Homo sapiens: one gene and its partners. The protein of the gene in region 3 interacts with the protein of the main gene of each other region in a biochemical or structural test. Each region holds a gene or a part of one and is shown on either strand. Other genes may lie near its edges.

Region 1 (7,605 bases), on a different chromosome or scaffold from region 3:
CACTTCTGCAACCTTCAGGCATGCGGTGGATTCTCCCTAAATACTGGATGGCGATGGCTGTGTGGGAGGGGGCCAGCTTGGGAGGCGCAGGCATCTGAAGTCAGGCTCCCGCTGGCCAGGCAGGCAGCAGCCCGGCGGACTCCTTAACGGCTGTCTTTCTCCCCTGGAGATCTGAAACGTCTCTCCTCAGCCTAGGCTCTTTGCCCTTTAGAAACATGTGGACTTCTTCGGCCCCTTCCCATATCCAGCTTTTCTTTTGGTTCTGGTGGGTTTCATGTTTGCCAGTCTGGCCAGCATGGTCCATGTGGTCGAGCCCCACAGAAAGTGAGGGCGGGAGTGGAGGGGGCAAGACCGGAGGTAAAAACTCGAGTCCAGTCTCCGGCTAACTAAAAATAGTTATGGGGGAAAAAAGTTTATCTTTCCAACTAAAAAAAAAAAAGTGTTTACAATATGCCTTTAGTGTTGCTTCCTGGGTGGAACTGATTTTTCAATGCATGTGGTAGTGAAAGATTAACAACTTCTCGGATGTAGCATATTAGGTTTTTTTGCTTTTCCTAAGGGAGGAAAAAAAGCAAATCCAAGGCATCAGGAAAGCAGTGGGAGGATGGTCCTGCCTCGCTGGGCAGAGAAGCTGTGCTGATCAGCTAAGCCAGGAGGCCCACAGGGCACTGCTGCGGGGCAGAGCACCGGAATCTGGACGCCCTGCAGAAAACTGGGAGGGGGCCGGACCCAGGTTCTAGCGGAGGTGTGCTCCTATCCAGCAGGAGTAGATCGGATAATCTGAATTCCTGACCCTCGGGACCTGCTGGAGATGGCCTCCCTCTGCAGGGACCATTTTCCCGCCTCTGTTCGTCACCTTAAAAGGTGAAAAAAAATCTTCTAACTAAGATGATGTTGTACAGAACCAGTGGTACTGATATAATTGATGGGAAAACTCCAGAAATTGAAACATTCACTTCTAAGTATGTCTACAATAAAGTTATTTTTGCAAACTGTTTCCTCTTTAAAACCACTGACAGAGAGAAGTTCTCTGAGGTAAAGGGGCAAAATGCCTGAGAGTTGGGGAGCGAGGGTGGCAGCACTACACCACAAATCTCCATATTTGCCCTACAGGTGTGTGTTCTACTAAGGGCTGGAATCGCCTTAAGGGCCGGTGATCCAGTGATGAACAACTTTTGTTGTTTGCATTAGTTACCCAGCTTGGTGGCTTTCCACAAAAATGTGCAGCACATTTGAGACAGGACTACCCTTTAAAATAAACGCGTCATACTCAACGTTCTTCTGTATTTTATTTTTCCTAATTACATCTTTTCTAGGAAGGACTTGTAAACTTTTCATAAAATCGTCAAGTGCCACTTCCAACACCAAAGCCACTGCCTGGAACCTTAGCAGGGAGGTTGCCTTCCTTCCCCCTCGCCTTCCAGGTTAAACCAGGGACTGGGCGATGTTTCAGGAGAGGAAAACATCCAAAAGGCAGGTCAAACCACACATGACAATGCAAAGCAGAAACAGTTGCAAATACAATAGAGGGTAGGTTTTTGTTTCTTTTTAGGTTTTGCTCCAGAACATCACTGACTCGAGAATAAACGTCAGTCCCTACCTTTGTGGAACGTCCAACGCAGCTGGCTGGGGGAACACGAGGCCTTGCAGGGAGCGAGCCCCGGCCCCGGTCTGACGGAACACAGGCGACGCACGTGAAGTCCAGGCCCTATCCCAGCGCAGGCGGGCCTCCAGCGACCCACAGTTGTCACATATCCGGCCAGCGCCGACTCCCGAAGGCGCACTCCCCATACTCCACTCCGAGCACCGGTCCCATCGTTAGGGAAGGTCCCCCTGGATAGCAAGGCCGGGGCCCAGGATCTGCGAGACCCACCCCACCCGCCCCGTCAGAGCCCAGGAGCAGCAACAGGTCTGCGCTCTCCCCGGGCGGCGCTCTGCAGACCCTCGACGGGCCAAGGGTGCCCCCAGCCCAGCCGTGCGCTCAGGCCGGGGAGATGGGCGGAGGACTGGGGCTCCCGACTTCCTTGACAGTTTCTGCGCGTCAGAAACTGAGCAGACACGGGGCCCGCGCCACCTCGCCCGCCGCTTGCCCCACTCCGCGAGGCTGCGCTTCCACCCGGGTCCGGGAGGGCCGGCCCGCGTCCCGGGTATGAATGGGGCTCTTCTCCCCAACAGCGGGGAAATCCCGCCACCGCCCTCCACCCCGGTCCCCGGAGCCCGCGGTGGCGCAGGTTTGCCCAGCAAGCCCCTGAATCGGCAGACAAAGGGGCACCGGAGGAAAAGCCGAGCGCTTCCCTAAACTTACCGGCCACTTCCCCCTCCCCAAAACAAAGGAGCCCCCCGCCGACCTCCGTCTCTCCCCGCAAGGCGCGCCGGCACTTCGGGGAGCGGCCACCTCGGGGTATTGTTCAGGCTCCTGGGAGCGCGCCGCACCCCAGTCCGAGCGCCGCGGGGACAGTTGGCGACCTGCACCTACAGGAGTTCCAGGGGCGGGTGGAGCGTTCGGGCGCCCCGAGCCGCCGGCCGGACCCTGGAGGGTCAGCGCGGGACCCGCCTCCCCGCAGAAGTTTGCGGACCCCGCGCCCGGCCCGCCGAGCCCTGCGCACTCACCTCGTCGCGAGCAGCGCAACTTGTGGCGGCGCCGCGCGCCCGGCCGCGCTCCGAACCTCCCTCCAGCCGGCAGCCTCCGAGTCCCGGCCGTGCGGCGGCCGAAGAGGGCCCGGCGCCCCGGAGCAGCCGCGCGCCGCCCCCGGGCCGCCCCCGCCCCGCCGCCGCCGAGTCCCGGAGAGAGCGCGGGCGCTGGAAAGTTTCGGTGGCGAATGGCGGCCTGAGGGCGCTGCGGCGGCGGCGGGGCGGGGGCGCTGGCGGCTCCTCGCTCCCAAGCGCGGAGTGGGGGCGCTGAGGCGGGCGCGGCGGCGGCGGCGGCGGCAGCGGGAGAGGGCGGGACAGCGGGAGGGACTGGCACGGACAGTGACCTCCACGGGGAGCTGCCGCGAGCGCGCGGACCCCAGCCAGGAGGACCGCCAGGGGTCCGCCCCCGCCGCCGGCCCCTCCCTCACGGCCGTGGGAGGGGACCCGGCGTACCACCCGGCCCCGCCCCTGCGCCCCGGGGGAGCCGCGTCCCGAACCAGCCCCTCCCCTACGAGGGTAGGGACTCCGGCCCTGCCCCTCCCCCGCGGCTCCTAGTGGGGACCCGCGTCCCAACCCAGCCCCTGTCCCACGGTCGGGGGACCAGCGTCCCTACCAAGCCCGCCCCGCTCCCCCACGCCTAGGGTGGGTGAGGGGAACCCGGGCCTCTCCCTAGTTGCTCTGGTCCCGGTCCCTTCCCCGTGGCCTCCGTGGGACTGAGAGGACCCCAGGGCTACCCCCATCACATCCCAAACCCAGCCTTTCCACGACTGCCTCGAGGGGACGGGAACCTCGGCCACCCCCTCAGTTTCTAGGGGGCAGGGGAACCTCGATCACTGCTAAAGTGTTACCCTCCCCCACCCCAAAAAGGAAGCCACCCGGCTGCCCCAACAGAACCCCCTGCCACCTGCCCGATGGTGAATCTCCCTCAAAATCGGCGTCTTAGAAGACACCCCAGTAGTCTTTACCCCAGCTCAAAAAGTGGGGGTTCCGGCGGAGCCTCGACCTTTGCAAAACACCTCCCAAGAAGAGCCAGAAATGCTTAGGGACAAACTCAGACACACAGGCATAGGCGCCAGGAACTCGGGTGTGGGGGCTGAGGAGGTTGGGGGGACCTGGGCACTCGGGCCTCATCACTCCCACCCCAACCCCCCAGGCATCAGCCCTCTGGCCCTTGCAAAGTGCTTTATGTTGCAATGGCTTACACGGCCTGGCCCCGGTGTACCTAAGTCCCCAGCGCTCCTTCCTCCCCTCCACGTAGGCTACTCCCAACCACTCGCAGCCTTAATTCAGTTAAACAGATCTCCACTCCCCCTCCCCAGCACCTCTGGGGTCAGCCTCGTTGAATATTTTTCAAATATTCTTGCCCCTTCCTTTACTATATAATGAGCTTCGTGCTAAGAGCCCGGTACACTCAGCAATCTAAACTATAACCTCACTTGCTCTTCCTCGAACTCTAGACCATTTGTTGTTCTGGTTGTAGGGGGAGGGGGACCTAAGGTGAGGTTTTTGTTTTTTTGTTTTTGTTTTTGTTTTTCTGAGGAGTCTCGCTCTGTCGCCCAAGCTGGAGTGCAGTGGCGCGCTGTCGGCTCATTGCAACCTCCACCACCCTGGTTCAAGCAATTCCCCTGCCTCAGCCTCCCGAGTAGCTGGGATTACAGGCGCATGCCACCACGCCCAGCTAATTTTTTTTGTATTTTTAGTAGAGACGGGGTTTCACCATATTGGCCAGACTGGTCTGAACTCCTGACCTCAGGCAATCCGCCGGCCTCGGCCTCCCAAAGTGCTGGGATTACAGGCGTGAGCCACCGTGCCCGGCCGGAGGTGAGTTTTTAAGAGGCCGGTCCTCCACCAAAACGGCGGACCTCAAAATTACCCTGCAAAATATTGCTGTAAAACGTCAATGATGCAAAACGACTGTTGCTACACCATCATTAGAGGACATCAATAAAAAAATACACACTTACACAGTCTCCATAATTGTGAATCAGCAGAATAGATTGTGTCTTATTATGTATCAGTTGCCATTCAAGGCCCCCCAGAAGGACATGGTGGGGCCTTCCCTTGAGCCTGCCCTTCGTTGCTCCTGGGCTCCCTGGGCTTGTGCAGACTGATGCTGAGGTATTACATGCAATAGAAAAACGAAGGGTGCAATAGAAAACCCGAACGAGCTCATGATGCAACCCTGCCCTGGCTACACGTGCTTCCCTTCCCCCACCGCCTGCTGGTGGGAGTGCTGCGTTTTTTCCGCCTGTAGGGTCACATTGTGGTTGATTGATTCTCCTTTCGCCTTGCTCAGTCATTCAGATTTGGAAAGTAAATAACAAGTTGACATCATTACAGCTCTGGGCTTTACGCGGACGCAGCCCTCGGCTACCGCACACTCTGGAGTAGCTGCGCAGCCAACCAGCCTCCTAGCTTGCCAGACCTGCTTGTGGTTAGCAGTTGGAAATTCCAAGCTAAACTTGGTTAAAAGGCCTCTTTGTGTGTTTTGATTACTTGGCAGATGCCAGTCTTTTAAAGTATGGGAAAGTGGTGGAAATCCTCACTTTCAAACTGGAGCCCAGTGTGGCCAGGATTTACAGCTGAGCTCCTGTAATTGACAATGCAAAAGAGCTGAGAATTCATCTTGACTGTTTGACAATATCCCCATAATCCCACCACCCTTATTACCCGTAAAGAGTCAATATCTTTTATCATAGACTCACAGGACCCCAAAGGACACTGTAAGACCTAAGACAGGAAGAGAGACCGCCTACATTTATCGTGAAATCACCAAAATTCCTCTTTTTGAAATACTAGATGGACTGTAGGTGGGTGATAATTAGACTGTGTTATTTAATCTGTTTCAACGATTTTTCAAATGTGCAGTCCTATAAGGTGGGAGAAAACAAGGAAATAAAGTAGAGCGGCAAGGAGGTAGTGTATTCTGAGAAAGCTAAAGGATAACAGGGCGAGGGGTCCACAGTGATTTACACAGAAACCCACTGCACTAGCCATGTGCGTGTGTGCGCGTGTGTGTGTTGCAAACACTTATTTTCAGTTATTGACTGGAGGGAGGGGAAAACAAGAATCTGCTTGCAACAAATACTACCAGCATTCCCCATAAACAGTACCCAAAATTTTAATTAAAAGGCAGTAGGAATTCACACAAATATACTTAACTAATCTTTCACAAAGGAGCAAAGGCAATTCATCCTTTTTAACAAGTGGTGCTGGAACAACTGGACACCCATATGCCAAAAAAAAAAAAAAAACTAGGCTTTTTATCTTTCACAAAAATTAACTTAAAATAGAACATACCCCCAAATGTAAAAGGCAAAACTATAAAAACTCTTAGAAGATAACATAGAAAATCTAGATGACCTTGGGTTTGGTAATGACTGTGTAGCTAGAACACCAAAAGCATGATGCGTAAAAGAAAAAAAAATTGGTAAGTTGGGCATCACTAAAATTTGAAAAGTCTACAAAAGACACTGTTAAGAGAATGAGAAGACAAGTCACAGAATGGGAGGAAATATTTGCAAATTCCATATCTGATTAAGGATTGTATTTGAAATATGCAGGCCAGCATAGTGGCTCACACCTGTTGAGGCTGCTGTGAGCTGTGATCTCACCACTGCACTCCAGCCTGGGCGACAGAGAAGACCTTGTCTCTAATTTTTTTTTAGAGTGTGTGTGTGTGTGTGTGTGTGTGTGTGTGTGTGCGTGTACAGATATATGTACATATGTGTATATGTATGTGTATATATATATACATATTTCTTAAAACTCCACGATGAGAAAATAAACAACTGAATCAAAGAGCAAACGATCAGAAAAAAACTCATCAAAGAGATATACAGATGGCAAGTAAGCATATGAAAAGATGCTGAACATCATATATCATTAGGGAATTGCAAGTTAAAGTAACAATGAGATACTACTACATACATTAGAATGGCTAAAATCCAGAAAACTGACAATCCCAGATGCTGACAGGATGCAGAACAACAGCAACTCTCATTTGTTGCTAATGGGAATGCACAATTGTACAGCTACTTCAGAAGACAGTTCGGCAATTTCCTACAAAGCCAAACAGAGTCTTACCATACAGTCAGCCGTTGTGCCCCTAGGTATTTACCTAACTAAGCTGAAAACTTACGTGCTCCAAAAACCTGCACACAGAGGTTTATGGCACCTTTACTCGTAATCACCAAACACTGGAAGCAACCAAAGTATCCTTCACTGGGCGAATGGATAAACAAACTGTGGCTCACCCGCATAATGGAATATTACTCAGCACTACAAAGAAATGGGTTATCAAGCCCCCAAAACACACAAAGGAACCTTAAATGCCTATTGCTAAGTGAAAGAAGCCAGTCTGAAAAGGCCATATACTGTATGATTCCAACCATATGACATTCTGGAAAAGGGGAAACAGATAAGACAACAATAAGATCAGTGGTTGCCAGGGGTTCAAGGAGGAAGAAGGGATGAATGGGTGGAACACAGTGGGTTTTTACAGTGGTGAAACTATTCTGTGTAATACTATGATGGTGGATACACGTTATTATACATATAAGTGTGTGTGTGTATATATATTTGTCAAAATTCACAAAATGTACAACACAAAGAGGAAACCCTCATGTAACTATGGACTTTAATTAATAATAATATATGAATACTGGCTCCTTAGTTGTTACAAATGTACCACACTAACTTAAGATGTTAATAACACTGGAAGCTGGGGAGAGAAACATGTAACTCTGCACTATCGGCTCAGTTGTTCTGCAAATCTAAAGCTCTTCTTAAAAAAAAGCCTATTATTTATTTTTTTTTAAAAAAGAAACACTGTGCCAAATGCTGTGGCTCACACCTGTAATCCTAGCATTTTGGAAGGCTGAGGCAGGAGAATCACTTGAGCCCAGGAGTTCAAGACCGGCTTGGACAACACAGTGAGATCCCATCTCTACAAAAAACAAAAATAAAAAAATT
Region 2 (7,025 bases), on a different chromosome or scaffold from region 3:
AAAAGAAGTTGAAATAACTAGTGAGGAAGAAACAAAACATACCCTCTGTACACACAGGGGAGAGTGGCCTAAGTGTGAAGGGTTGTGTATCTTCAACCGTGTCATAGGGGAATAAAGTTACAAGTCATTGCTCAGGCCAAGATAACCAGGTATAGAGATATTGTGGCAGCTGGCCTTGGTTCTATAATATCTAGGTTTGAATGAATTAATTTTAGGAGCTTTTCCATCTTTGACATAATTTTTCAACATTTAAAGGATAGTATTATTTTATAATCAGAGAGGATACAACAAAGGGGGCTTCCAATATTGGTCCTATTTATTATAAATTATTAACCTATGTGGTAGATACATGGGTGTCTCTTTTATTCTTTATATCTTCTTTATATTTTAAAGACTCATTAATGAAACTTCTATAAAAAAGATCATCTTGTTTTAAACCCTGGTAGTTCCCTGCTTTGAGAAGCCCCAGGAAGAAACGCTGCAGGAAAGGCAGGCAAGCAGGATTAGAGTGAAATCATCTCTCCATTTAATCTTATCCTGTTCTGATGCCAACTAGAATCTTGACATTGACAAGAATAAAGAGGCACTTCACATTTCATGGTTTTTTTTTTTTTTTTTGAGACAGGGTCCCAGGCTGGAGTGCAGTGGCATGATCATGGCTCACTGCAACTTCGACTTCCTGGGCTCAGGTGATGCTCCCACCTCAGCCTCCTGAGTAGCTGGGACTATAGGTGCGTGTCACCACACCTGGCTAATTTTTAAAAAATTTTTAGTAGAGACAAGGTTTCACCATGTTGCCCAGGCTGGTCTTGAACACTTGCGCTCAAGCGATCTGCTCATCTTGGCCTCCCAAAGTGCTGTGATTACAGGTGGATGAGCCATCATGCCCAACCACATTTCAGTCCGATTTTATGAGGACTTAAAATAACAAAGACAAATTTGAATAGAATGTGTGTGTGTATGTGCCTTCAAAAGTTATATTTGAAATTTTTACTTAATATCAAGGCAAAGCTTCCAAATACCAGACACATTAAATCACTGAAGTAGACTAGTTAGCAGATAAAATAAAATACTATTGTTTCCTTGAAGACATGGAAGCCTTGTAATGCCACATGCACATGTAATAAGTATATAATCTAGCTAACATTTTATCACCTGGTGGCCGGTTTGAAAATTCTGGCAGTTTAGGGCCTGAGTTATCCAAGTTAATTCCTTGTTCTCCAGGCAACGGTGGCTGATCAGCCTCTTCCAGACCAGCTGGGCGAGTATCTGGGGTGCTAAAAAAAAAAAAAAAAAAAAAAGTGACATATTTTAGAATAAGTTGTATAGAAAATACACAAAACTAGCTTAACCCTTCCCCTATTTCTGAAGAACTAAAATGTTTGCATTACCATTATTCATCTCTCTCTAGTCTAGATAAAATATTAAATATTGGCATAAAAATAATCTGGCAATTTCATTAAATGTTAAAATCCATTTAATCTAACAGCACTGTATTTACTCAGAATGCTTTCCACAAATTCCTGGTGCAATAATTTTCATGTAATCACCCATTCCTTAGCTGTTTTAAGACCTGATCATAGGACTATCAATGTTACAAGGTACTGTTCCTGTGAAACCACACTATCTTCAATGTAGCGATCAAATTCAACTAGGGGGTCTGATTGTTTCTTTTTTGTGGATATAACAGTGGGGGCTCAATTCATAACACCTTGCAAAAGGTTGTATAGGTTGGCTGATGGTATTCAGAGAACAAAGAAAGATTGAGACCACCACCACAAAGATTTTGCTGCAGAATGAGAATTTGCAGACATCTCTATTTGCTTTGAGATGCCTTTGCTTTTACCTGGGTGTAGCTTAAAATTTTTAGTAAGGAAGAAAAAAATGAAGAAATTGTAGCTACTAACACCCACATTCTCAAAGAACAAGACTGGTCACGGGCCTCATTTTGTTTGTAATCTCAGTACTAATTGTACTTTTCTTTTCTATCTTTAGTTTCCCTTTGCCCTGATTTTGTTCACCCACTTTTAGGTAGTGTTTTGTCTCATTATACTCTGTACAGTTTCATAAGCCACAAAAATCCACTTTAAAAGCCTCCCAGCAAATGGAAATTTAGAACCTGAAGCAGATCGTCAGCACATCCAGACCTATAACAATTTGCTCCTTGTAAGACTTCTCTCTCACTTTAAATTACAGGCAAGAATTCAGTGGTAACCTTTACTTTCAGAAAATTGTAGAGATAAGAAATCTCAGATATCTGGTCCAGCCCCATCATGTTATGAATGAGAAAACTAAGGCCCAAAAAGGTGTATGAAACAGGCCCAAGATTCCACAGTGAAGTAGTGGTAGAGCTGGAAGCAGGTACTTTTCCTGTAAATCCACTGTCTCCCTTTCCTGGGAGTCCTGATGCTGTGTAAGGTCCCTTTCACAATTTGTAGACCTAAGTAACCAATTTCCCTAAGGGCTGGTGAAGATGGCAAAAAATACACACTAGAGGCAACTGAATAACCTTGCAATTTTACTCCCAGACTACCGAGAGAATAAAATATTTATTAAATAATTATTCCCATAGGTTGATGCTAGTAAAGAATTTAACTGAGAAAGAGCTATCAGAAAAATTAGATAATTAACTTTGAATTCAGGAAAATATAGGTTATCATTAATAATACACCATGATTAGCTTTTAAAGCATAAGATTCAAGAAGAGGCAAGTGAGCATGATATAATACAGTACAAAGAATGTTGTGGGAAGGCTGGGATAAAGGTAGTTGGTTTAATTTTGAATATTTAAGCTGGTTGAAATAAAGTTTCTTGATTCTTTTTCTATAATTCTAACAATTTATTTCAATTAACCTGTTTTACATTCATTAGCCATTATTTCCTCATTTATTATTTTTTTATGATTAAAGGCACAAAATATAGCTCAGTGAATATTCCTTCTGGAAACATTTTATCAAACCCAGAAACACAAATTAATACTTAGCTTCAGGAAATGAAATATAAATTGTTAATTGCCTTTCCTGCTATGATCTTGCAAAATAACTCACCTGGAGAACGTTTACTGAAAGGGTAACTGATTTAAAAGGTCCAATCATCTTAGCGTGGGGTTTTAAGCTTCTAGGGATGATAAAGAGCCTTTAAAGGAAAGGCACCTGTGCAAAAAAACCATTTCTATTTGAGAGACAGCAGTAGTTTTAATTTCCAAAACACATTTGGCCTCTCTGGTTCCCCAATAGCCATCATAAGCCTAAAGTCAGTGCTTTGTGGAGTTGCCATATGGTAGCACTGGTTACTTTTCAGGCTCTGATTGCCAAAACCCCCCGACACTGTAAAATTAAGAGATATACCAGCCAATTGCAACATATGAATCTTGTTTGGATCCTTATTTGAACAAATTGTAAGAAAAAAATTTGAGATAATCAGGGAAGTTTGAACACTGGATATGAGAGTACTAAGGAAGTATTAGTTTTCTAGGTGTGCTAACAATATTGTGCGGGCATATTAAAAAGTGTCCTTATCTTTTAGAGACACACACTGAAATATTTACCCAGCGAATTTGCTTTGAAATACTCAAAAGGGTAATGGAAGAGAGTACAGATGAAGGCAAGACAGACTATGAGTTGATAATTATTGAAGCAGGGGGATTTCATTATACTATTCTAGTTTTATATTCTGTAAAATTTTCCATCAAAAAAGTTATCCACACAGAAAACAAATGAATAAAATTTGAGGCAAAACCATCACAACCTACTTTAGATCTTGCTGACTATTTTTCTTCTTCCGAGGGGGTTTCTTCTTCTTCGGTTTATTTGCGTTGGTATTATTTTGCTTATTGTTTACCCCAAAATGGCCTGCAGATATGTCACTCTGCAATAAGTTGACCAACAATGGGCTCGTTAGCGTGACATCCTTATTGACTGGGAAGCCTGGATTTTGACCACAGGACATCTGATTTCCATTGGGAGCTCCACTGAAAGGTGCATTGAAAGACATCCCATGGCCTGAGAAGTGGTTTCCCGAGGCACTGTTTCCCTGCATGGCCTGCACATGAGGGGGGACCATGTTGGTTTGTTGAATGCTAACATCAGGCATCATCTGAGATAAACTGACATCGTTATTTGCTGTAGTAGCAGGATCACCATGCTGCTGGGCCATGTGTGGGCTGGGCCCTGGTGGCCGCAGGACCTGTCCCTGAATGCCCATAACCTGAGATGGACTGTTGTTCACAGGCCCTTGCTGGGGCAGCATCTGTCCTGACATCTGTCCCGTAAACTGCACCATATTTCCTTGCATGTTTGGAGTTGGTCCCCTCATTATCTGGGCTGGTCCCGGCATGACATTGGACTGGTTCTGAGTGTTAAACTGCTGCTTATTCCCCTGCATTTGATTGGTCATAATCTGCTCTATCATTGGGTTCTGTTGGAGCAAAACCTGCCCCTGAGGCCCCATCATCTGGTTATGTGGCGCCATCATTTGTGGGCCCTGCTGGGAAAGCATCTGCTTGGGTGGGGTCATCCTTTGGGGCGAGGGCCCAAGATTTTGGCTCGGGGGGTTCACCATCATCTGGCCCTGTGGCATAAGCTGGGCCCTTGAAAGGATCATAGGGTTCTGAGGGTTCAAGGTTCCTTGTTGCTGGACCATCTGGCCCTGGGAGGGCACGATTTGCTGGTGCATGCCCATCAGCTGAGATGGTGGGCCCTGCTGGGGCTGGCCTTGCATGTTGCTGAGGTTCACTTGAGGAACCCCAGAAGTACCAGCCTGCTGATTGTTCATGTTGCCATGAATTCCCATGAGGCTGGGCTGCATCATATTTGGCGGCCCGTGGGACACCTGCATCTGGTTTTGAGGAGGACCAGCTCCTTGACCACCTTAAAAAAAAAAAAAGTCACAGTTTCAGAAATAAATATTTTTATCTTATTGGTATTAAGATACTCAAGTTACATTACTCAGAAAGACATCCATCACCCTTATATCCACTGACCAACATAAATATGCTGTTGACATACTTCCTGTGAGTTTTCTAAACTACAAAGATGTGGCTGTGGGATAACTGCTTACATTCCCAATGACCATATAATAGAGAAGGAGAAACAGTTTCTACATTCCCATATGGTATCTTAAAGATTTAACGTTTCAAAGATCAAGAAAGTTTACTTTCTTTCAGATTAAATAATGAGAAAGGCAGCATCTCACTGTTTTAAAATGACTTGTAGTGGCCAGGCTCGGGTGGTTCATGCCTGTAATCCCAGCACTTTGGGAGGCTGAGGCAGGCGGATTGCTTGAGCCTGGGAGGTGGAGGTTGAAGTGAGCCAAGATCATGCCATTGCACTCCAGCCTGGTGACAGAGTGAAACCCCGTCTCAAAAAATTAAATTAAATTAAATTCAAAAAGCACTATGGGCTACTGAAATAACTCTGCTATAAGAATGTGAAGTGTCGGCCGGGCGCGGTGGCTCACGCCTGTAATCCCAGCACTTTGGGAGGCCGAGGCGGGTGGATCACGAGGTCAGGAGATCGAGACCATCCTGGCTAACAAGGTGAAACCCCGTCTCTACTAAAAATACAAAAAATTAGCCGGGCGCGGTGGCAGGCGCCTGTAGTCCCAGCTACTCGGGAGGCTGAGGCAGGAGAATGGCGTGAACCCGGGAAGCGGAGCTTGCAGTGAGCCGAGATTGCGCCACTGCAGTCCGCAGTCCAGCCTGGGCGACAGAGCAAGACTCCGTCTCAAAAAAAAAAAAAAAAAAAAGAATGTGAAGTGTCCTCTTAGGAAAACCTCAACAATCATGAGAAGACATTTAAAAATGCTTCTTGGAAAACTGTAATAATAATGACTCTCAAAAGCTATGTGTGTGATATGTGGATGCTGCACTTCAAAGAAAATAACACCAAGGACAGGTGTCCTCTGCCCTGATGTGGTAAAAAGCAGTTAATCTTGATCTGGAAGCTGAGCCTCTGGTGGGAGCCAACTGACTAGATGACCCATCTGGAAGCTGCAAATAGAGGAATAATAAAACCTCAGTGACCCTCTCCTGCGCAGTCCCTGGTGAATCATGTGGCACATGTTTTAGTCTTCTCAGCTATTTCTAACTTAGACAAAAGTTGCTACCCGCCTTGCTGTAGTGCTTATTTATTTACTGGGTCTTTGGGATTTTCCTATAGCTACTTGCATTATCTCCCCGTTTAACTGAATAACTTTGTAGTTAATTTTGTCCCTTTTATTTTTCACTTTTTTTGTTGTTTTGTTTTTGAGACAGAATCTGGCTCTGGTGCAACCTCGGCTCATTGCAACCTCCACCTCCTGGGTTCAAGTGATTTTCATGCCTCAGCCTCCCCAGTAGCTGAAACTAGAAGCGCACAACAACACACCCGGCTAATTTTTGTATTTTCAGTAGAGACAGGGTTTCAGCATGTTGGTCAGGCTGGTCTCGAACTGCTGACCTCAGGTGATCCACCCGCCTTGGCCTCCCAAAGTGCTGGGATTACAGGCTGAGCCACCGCACTTGGCCTTATTTTTCACTTTTAAATGGGGACTAGAAAATCCCCTACAATGAAGTTATGAAGCCAGTCCATGCTCCAACTATGAAGGCAGGGGGCAAACTACCTTGTTCACACTATCCAGACTTCTCCTGAACTCTAAGGAAGATTTTCTAAACCAGCCTTATAAACTCAAAGTGGAACTCCATGACCATTGTATATGCTTGTATACAATAAATATACTGTGTATATTCATTCAACTGACAATTATTCATTAAGTACCTGATACATAGAAGGCACTTTGGTGCTGAGGTAACATCAATAAACAAGACAGACCAAATCCCTGCATCCTTGGAGCCTACAGTCTAACTGGCAAGAGACACAACTAACAAACAGACAAGTATTTTTTCAGGAAGCAGTAAAAGCTAACAAGAGAAAGTAGGGTGAGAGAAGAGAAAGTAAGAGATAAGAGTAGAGCTACTTTAGATAGGATAAATGGGGAAACCAAAACATGTACACGTGGGCCGGGCACAGTGGCTCAGGCCTGTAATC
Region 3 (7,025 bases):
AAGGTTATTCCTATTGCTTTTAAGATACTGTATGTTGTTCCTGACTGGCATTTTTGCATTTGTTCTTTGCTGACATGAACTGGTTCTTTTCAGCTGCCATGTGAAGACCAGATCATCCTCCTCAAAGGCTGCTGCATGGAGATCATGTCCCTTCGCGCTGCTGTGCGCTATGACCCAGAAAGTGAGACTTTAACCTTGAATGGGGAAATGGCAGTGACACGGGGCCAGCTGAAAAATGGGGGTCTTGGGGTGGTGTCAGACGCCATCTTTGACCTGGGCATGTCTCTGTCTTCTTTCAACCTGGATGACACTGAAGTAGCCCTCCTTCAGGCCGTCCTGCTGATGTCTTCAGGTGAGTACGCCTAGACTCGTTAGTGGGCATCCAAAGAGCTTTTGCTTGTCTAGCGCTAATTCCAATCACTTGAGTTTTCAGTCCCCCTTTAGCTTCAGAAACATAGCTCACTCTTCTTCAGTAAGAAATTGCAGGTTTGCCAGTGGACTGGGAACTTAAAGGGGGGGCGTCAGATGTCTGATGCTTTTTGCAGTGTCCCAGGATAGAAAGAAGCCAAAGGAGCCATCTTAAAGACTCTACGAAGTGATCCGCCTTTGGTGGATACTGTGCAGCCCTCTTCGTAGTCTTTGGCCAAACCTGCCTCCTTCTGGTTTGGGGTATGCCAGATATGGATGTGAGTGACCACACGATTGTGTGTTAAGTTCTGTGTGTGGAAACCGCGGATGCAGGCTAGAATTTGTTCATGGCTTAGCTACAACTGAAGTTTTAGTTATCTGTTGCTAAATAGCACACCGACCCAAAACTTAGTGGCTTAAACATCCAAGATGGCTGGAGTTCAGCTGGGACATCAAACACTGGTTCAGGCCTCCCTCTATGCGGCCTTTCCTCCGGCAGGGTAGACTTCTTACTTGGCTGTTGATTTCCAAGAGAAAGAGTCCCAAGCACACGAAAACAGAAGTTGCAGATCCCATGAGGCCCAGTCTCAAATCACACAGGATCCCTTCATCCACACTGGATTGGCCCAAACAAGTCTGAGTGCCAGCCAGGACTCAACGGTCCCCCTGTAGATGGGAGGATAGCACAGAATGGGCAGCCGTCTGTAAGCCACTACACATCAAACCCTTTCAGGGAAGATAATTTTAAATAGAAGTGGTTTCAGAGTCCTCTGCATTTTCAGGGCACCCAAGTGTAGATGTGCTTTGGCACTTGTCACTCTGCACTGTAACTACCTGCTTCACTTGTCCACGTAAGTCCCTGTGGACTTCTTTTTTTTGAGGACATAGATGTGTCTAACTGTACATCCAGCACCTAGGCCAGTGTGCAATAGAATTCAAGAAATGCTTATTGGATAAATGGCTGAATATGTGGATAAAATATCGGTCACAAGTACATCGAGAATTCTTTGTAGAGTTGCTGCTTCCTGGTTAACTCAGTAGGAAATTTTTTTTTTTTAACCTGAGACACGGTCTTGCTCTGTTGCCCAGGCTGGAGTGCAGTGGTGTAAAGACAGCTCATCGCAGGCTTGACCTGCTGGGCTTAGGAGATTCTCCTGCCTCAGCCTCTCCAAGCACACGCCACCACCCCTGGCTAATTTTTTATTGTTTTGTAGAGAGAAACAGGTCTCACTATGTTGCCCAGTCTGGTCTTGAACTCCTGGGCTCAAGTGATCTTCTCACCTCAGCCTCCTAAAGTGCTGGGATTATAGGCATGAGCCACCACGCCTGGCCTAGAATTCTTTTTTTAAAGCTAATCTAGAAATGTATTTACTATAGGAAATTTAGATATGGCAGACTTTTAAAAAAAGAAAGAAATAATTCTTTTTATTATGGAAAATTTCAAGGGTAAGCAGATAGAATAGCATAATGAACTCCCATGTACACTGTGGCACCCAGACTCCAGACCGGCCTCCTACACTCCCCACCACCTCCTAATGTTCACACCTTGGATAATCTCCTGTCCTTCAGTGTGTGCAGGACCTGTACCTTGCTTCTAGCCAAGAGAATATGGCAAATTTGATGTCACCCCTTGTGATTACATTACATAATCTAAGATTCCCTCTTGCTGGCAGACTTGCTCTAGGGACTCTCCGTGCCAGCTTCATGAAGTAAACCGCCATGTGGGGAAAGTTCCCATGACAGGAGCTATAGATGACCTCTAGGGCTGAGGGTGGTCTCCAGTGACAGCCAGCAAGAAATGGGGCCCACAGTCGTTCAGGAGAATTAGTCTCAAAGAAATAAAATTTATAGCTTATCCAAGGACTCCTTGTGTGACTTTGGGTGACCCCTAGCTTCTCTGGACTTCAGTGACCTTTAAAATGAAGAAATTAAGCTACATACACGGGAATTATATTTCTGGAGGGACTCATGGTAATTTTTTTAGCTGAGATTTTAGAGGTACAAAGACAGTTTTAAATAATGTTGAATCACACCACGAGAAAGCTGTTTCTCTGACGGTTTTCTTCCTGGTTATATCTCCTTCCAAATAAGGCAAGGAGAGAGATTCGGTGTGGTGCTAGTCTGCCTTTAACACCTCTCTTGACACTTACCTTCTTTTTTAACAAAGAGAGAGTGGATCTCAGGAGCAATGTTCAGCCAGAACCTTCAGCTCCAAAGTAACAAAGGCTTTTGCCATGCATCTATTTTTGTGGTTATCTTCTGATTTATGTCAAATGGATTTTTATTACTGAATAATAAGATGTTTCCTCTGTAGTGGGTCAGTTTAACAGATTATTAAGCAAATAATCTAAGTAAGGTAGATAAAAGGAAAAGTAGGTGGAGATGACAAAAACTGTGAATGTGATGCCAAACACTATCAAACACCAAACTGAATGATTCTTCCCAGTTCTCTCATGTTGTGAGGCTGACACTGCCTGACAGCTACAGGACAACTTAATAACTTTTCACAATCCACCCTCCCCAGTGATGTGGACCCTCTTCATTAATACTGCCAGGACCAGAAAAATATTACAAGACATTGTGCATTTGGCAAATGATAGCTGCGTGTCAGGGCCCCAAGTCTCCAGTTCTATCATGGGGCCTGATGTTCTAAGCCCCATGTTTTGTGTGCCATTTCGGTTACACAATATCTTAGACTTTTTCTTCAAAGACTTTTCCAAGAGCCACTACTTCTAAGTTCCTTGGTCCCACAGTGCAAAGAGAAAAAATGAAAATGATCTGAAAGACATTTCTTTAAGAACTTTTGTCTTAAGGAGTTAAAATGGTCTTCAGTCTTTAAAATGTTTCTCTCTTCATAAACCTGTTCAGTGTGATTCAAGCATCATCAAAATGTCAATTTGTACTCGCTATGTCATTTACGTGGCCATCTCGTCTTTATCTCTTTGATGCCACAAAACCCACATTATATTTTTCCCTTTGAAAGAACACATCCAAAGCAATAATATGTTGATCTTCTATTTGGGTCAAAAATTAAAGGATCCTGTGGAAAATTCTTGCACACTCAAAGAAAGAGAGAAGATAGGGGAAAGGGAGAGAGGGAGAACCAGCAAATCTGCAGAGCAGCTTCATCAAATATGAAGGAAAACACAAGATAAAAATGCACGAATTGCCATTTGTGCTAAATAGGGGATTCCAAAAGCCCATATGGTTTGTTAGTTTGTTTAGACTCAGAAGGGTGAATTGAGACATTAGCCCTGATCCTTCCTTTCCAATGAAGCAGAACCCTGTTTCGATTCCTATTGATACAGACACCTCAATAATTGGACCTTTGAAGTGTGAATTCATTTGATCAGAGCCACAAAGAACAAACTGAAGAGAACTTAGCAGGGGCACGTTGGGCCTCCTGGAGCTATTTGAGGAATTCATCCGGGTTTATAGATTATTTTTGTCAGCCAAGTGTCTGCAGCCCAACTATTCCCCAGTTGCCCAGCCTCCTTGTGTCACCCCTTTGTTTGCCACTTTTGGAAACTGACTTGAGCCTCTCCCACATACTATGGGAAGCCCAGTAGTCTGCACAGGACTTGGGAAGATTTGCTGGGCTTTCCAGGGTCCCGGTGTCTTCTCACTCCAGCTCCCACTATAGCTGTTCTCTTCTCTGCATGGGGTGACTCTGGCACAGCTCCCCTCCCCTTTTCATTTCAATTCCAAAATCATGACTAATACAAGGCTGCTACTGGTAGCAATTTTACTAAAGGCATAAGGGAAGGGAAAGGCCAGTTCATTGCAGCCTGGAAGACAACACAAAATTAAACATGGTGTTTCTTGGTCCTCAAGGAAATGTCTTACTATTCCGCGTTCCTCCTTTGGCCTCAGGCCTGCTGCAATGTCCCCAGTCCCTTCATATATCTCCCCCTTCTATGCATGTCCACGCTCATCCTCTCCTCTCTGCCAGGCAGCCAGTGAAAATTCAAAATTGTTCCCCTCATCTTGCAGAATATTTCAGCTATGTCAGGCTTCTCCTTCTGTACCCTAGGAGGGAGGCATCACCTTTCACACTCAAGAAGGTAATTCACACTCAAGCTAAACTGTCTAAACAGAGATATTTATCTGAACAAAGTACTGCCTCTCTTCATATAAATGATGCCACTCCCCTGGTACCTGGTCCCTGGAGCACCAGAGTTCACGCTGCATCCATGCTCATGGCTAAGAGGGAAGACCCTAGATCTGCCCGCCCCCCAATAAAGGCCTGGAATTGGACAAAGCAAGCCTTCCCCCTTCCATCTCTGAATCAATGTCCATCTTCTCTCTTCCCCGCAGATCGCCCGGGGCTTGCCTGTGTTGAGAGAATAGAAAAGTACCAAGATAGTTTCCTGCTGGCCTTTGAACACTATATCAATTACCGAAAACACCACGTGACACACTTTTGGCCAAAACTCCTGATGAAGGTGACAGATCTGCGGATGATAGGAGCCTGCCATGCCAGCCGCTTCCTGCACATGAAGGTGGAATGCCCCACAGAACTCTTCCCCCCTTTGTTCTTGGAAGTGTTCGAGGATTAGACTGACTGGATTCATTCTCATAATTCCTACAGCACTACTGGGTGTCATTTCATTCCATTGCCTAGCTCTTTTTTGTTTGTTTCTTTGTGTTGGGAGGGATTATTTGGGAGGGAAAAGGGAAGTAGTCCTTGGCATAGACATGGATGAAATTGCCCCTTGAATGCGGGTACTTGAAACTATTGCATTTCGTTCTCCGGTCCTGTGATGTGAATGCTCTGAAGGTTTTATGGTTGTGGAGGTGGGGTGGGGGACAATCATTAACTCACCAGCACCAAGCATCACCAGCTCCCACCCGTCCCTGGTCCAAGACTTGAGTCAGCAAAATGGCGCCACAGGACACTAAAGAAGCCTTAAAACCAAGATAATACGACCACCTCCACCCAATCCTGATGTTCGCAGGGCTGAAGTTAACAGAGCACAGACCACCTTTAGTTAGATGTGGCTTTCAGCCTTTTAGGGAAAGACTCGAACAAATTTTCATCTATTCAAGAGCATGCTGTTTGCAGCACTCTTTATGGTCTCCTAGGAGCATAACTTGGAATGTACAGGAATATTTGTGTCCTAAAAAAATCAGCTGCCCTTCCAATATCATTTTTATAACGTTATGGTTTAATTCAAGTTATACAAAGGTGTGACTCAAGGATGTGCAGGTATTGACTGATGGAGGCCAACAAGGAAAATATTTTTTTTCAGTGAGCCCAGAGAAATTAGAAATCTTCACCAATGTCAGTGACTGCATGGTTTCCAAAAATTCACATAGTATTACCTCACAGTAGGAAGGCTTCTTTCCCATTTAGGCTCAGAGAACACTTTTACAGAAATCAAACCTATTTACAGGGTGGCACCCCTTTTCTGTGGCATCTGATCTGTCATCTCCCAAGCTCCTGAAGTTCTTTATCCAGGTTGTATCTTTGCTGAGCTGACAACAGATTTCTCTATGGATCAAATATTCTAATCAAGGAAAGATACGGTGAAACTTCAGTCTTCTTCTGGAGAAATGCTGAGGCGAGATTAGTGCAGCTACATTCTGAGTTGAAGGAAATGCAGTGTTCTGAGGGCCCCTTTGTGTCCTGATGGCTGGAGGACGCTTCCTCCTGGTTAGATCCTCAAGCTCCTTGCCTCATTGACAAATGTCTCCTAGTCCCCTTTTTCCCTCTGACTCTGAGGAACTAAATAGCTTGACTATCTCTAAACAGAGACTGGCCCTGCCACTGACCCTCCTGTCCCTCTCATAGCATACCCTGACAGATACTCAATAGAAAACACCTGCAGACCATGTGCACACTTAACTTTCCTGCCCAACCTGCCTCCCCAACGGCCCATGCTAGAATAGCTTGTGCCCAGAAAACAAACAGTGACACTTCATCTCTTCAGCGTCAGAAAATGGGCATAGAATGTACCCATGCAATTGAATGTATCTCATTCTCCACTGGCATAGTAGATATAAACTATTCCTTTGCCTACCTTTTACTGCCTTATCCTGGAAATATTGGGGAAAATAAGCCATATCAGTGAGATTTACCTAAAAACAAAGGAAGGAAAGTCACTATGGAAACCAAGTAGATGCTTTTTGTAAGTTTGGTGGAGCATAACTGGCCCAGAAGTCTGGGTGCCTGAGTTCTAGTTCGTGCTCTGTCAACTGGTAGATTTGTAATTCTAGGTCTTGGTTTTCTTACCTGGTGAATAAGTCATGATCTCTAAAACCCTTCCTGCCCTTAATATTGTCTGAATTTCAAGGGGAAAAAAAAAATCTGGTTCCTTTAATTATTTTTTTTTAACACTTAAATTCCTAACTTTATTAGACAAGAAGTATGGCCCACTTAACAGTTAAGGAACGTAAATTTGTTATTGGCTCGAAATAATAATTTGACACAATACTAGTCAACCATTTAGAGGCCTTGGAAAAAGAAGAGGAACAGCACTGAAAATTCCAAGTATGATTGGAAATTATCTGGGAGCGGGGAATTAAATATTCAATGCATGAAAGCAATTGTACTGGCTTCTGGGAAAAAGGAAACAAGAACATTGCTATGGAACTTGTTACCCAGAGAAAGGAAG

Evidence for each region. The genes of interacting proteins can lie anywhere in the genome.
Region 1: the proteins of THRB (region 3) and TBL1X form a complex in vitro, tested with the Homo sapiens proteins (2 studies listed by BioGRID).
Region 2: the proteins of THRB (region 3) and NCOA6 form a complex in vitro, tested with the Homo sapiens proteins (2 studies listed by BioGRID).

Annotation. Positions count from the first base shown.
Region 1 is NC_000023.11:9,460,453-9,468,057, reverse strand, and holds the start of TBL1X (F-box-like/WD repeat-containing protein TBL1X), read right to left. Parts: upstream 3,001-7,605; 5' UTR 2,611-3,000; intron 1-2,610. UniProt on the Homo sapiens protein: F-box-like protein involved in the recruitment of the ubiquitin/19S proteasome complex to nuclear receptor-regulated transcription units. Plays an essential role in transcription activation mediated by nuclear receptors.
Region 2 is NC_000020.11:34,745,652-34,752,676, forward strand, and holds part of NCOA6 (nuclear receptor coactivator 6), read right to left. Parts: intron 4,869-7,025; coding exon 3,752-4,868; intron 3,746-3,751; exon of another isoform or gene 3,048-3,745; intron 1,278-3,047; coding exon 1,156-1,277; intron 1-1,155. UniProt on the Homo sapiens protein: Nuclear receptor coactivator that directly binds nuclear receptors and stimulates the transcriptional activities in a hormone-dependent fashion. Coactivates expression in an agonist- and AF2-dependent manner.
Region 3 is NC_000003.12:24,120,826-24,127,850, reverse strand, and holds part of THRB (thyroid hormone receptor beta), read left to right. Parts: intron 1-93; coding exon 94-352; intron 353-4,725; coding exon 4,726-4,967; 3' UTR 4,968-7,025.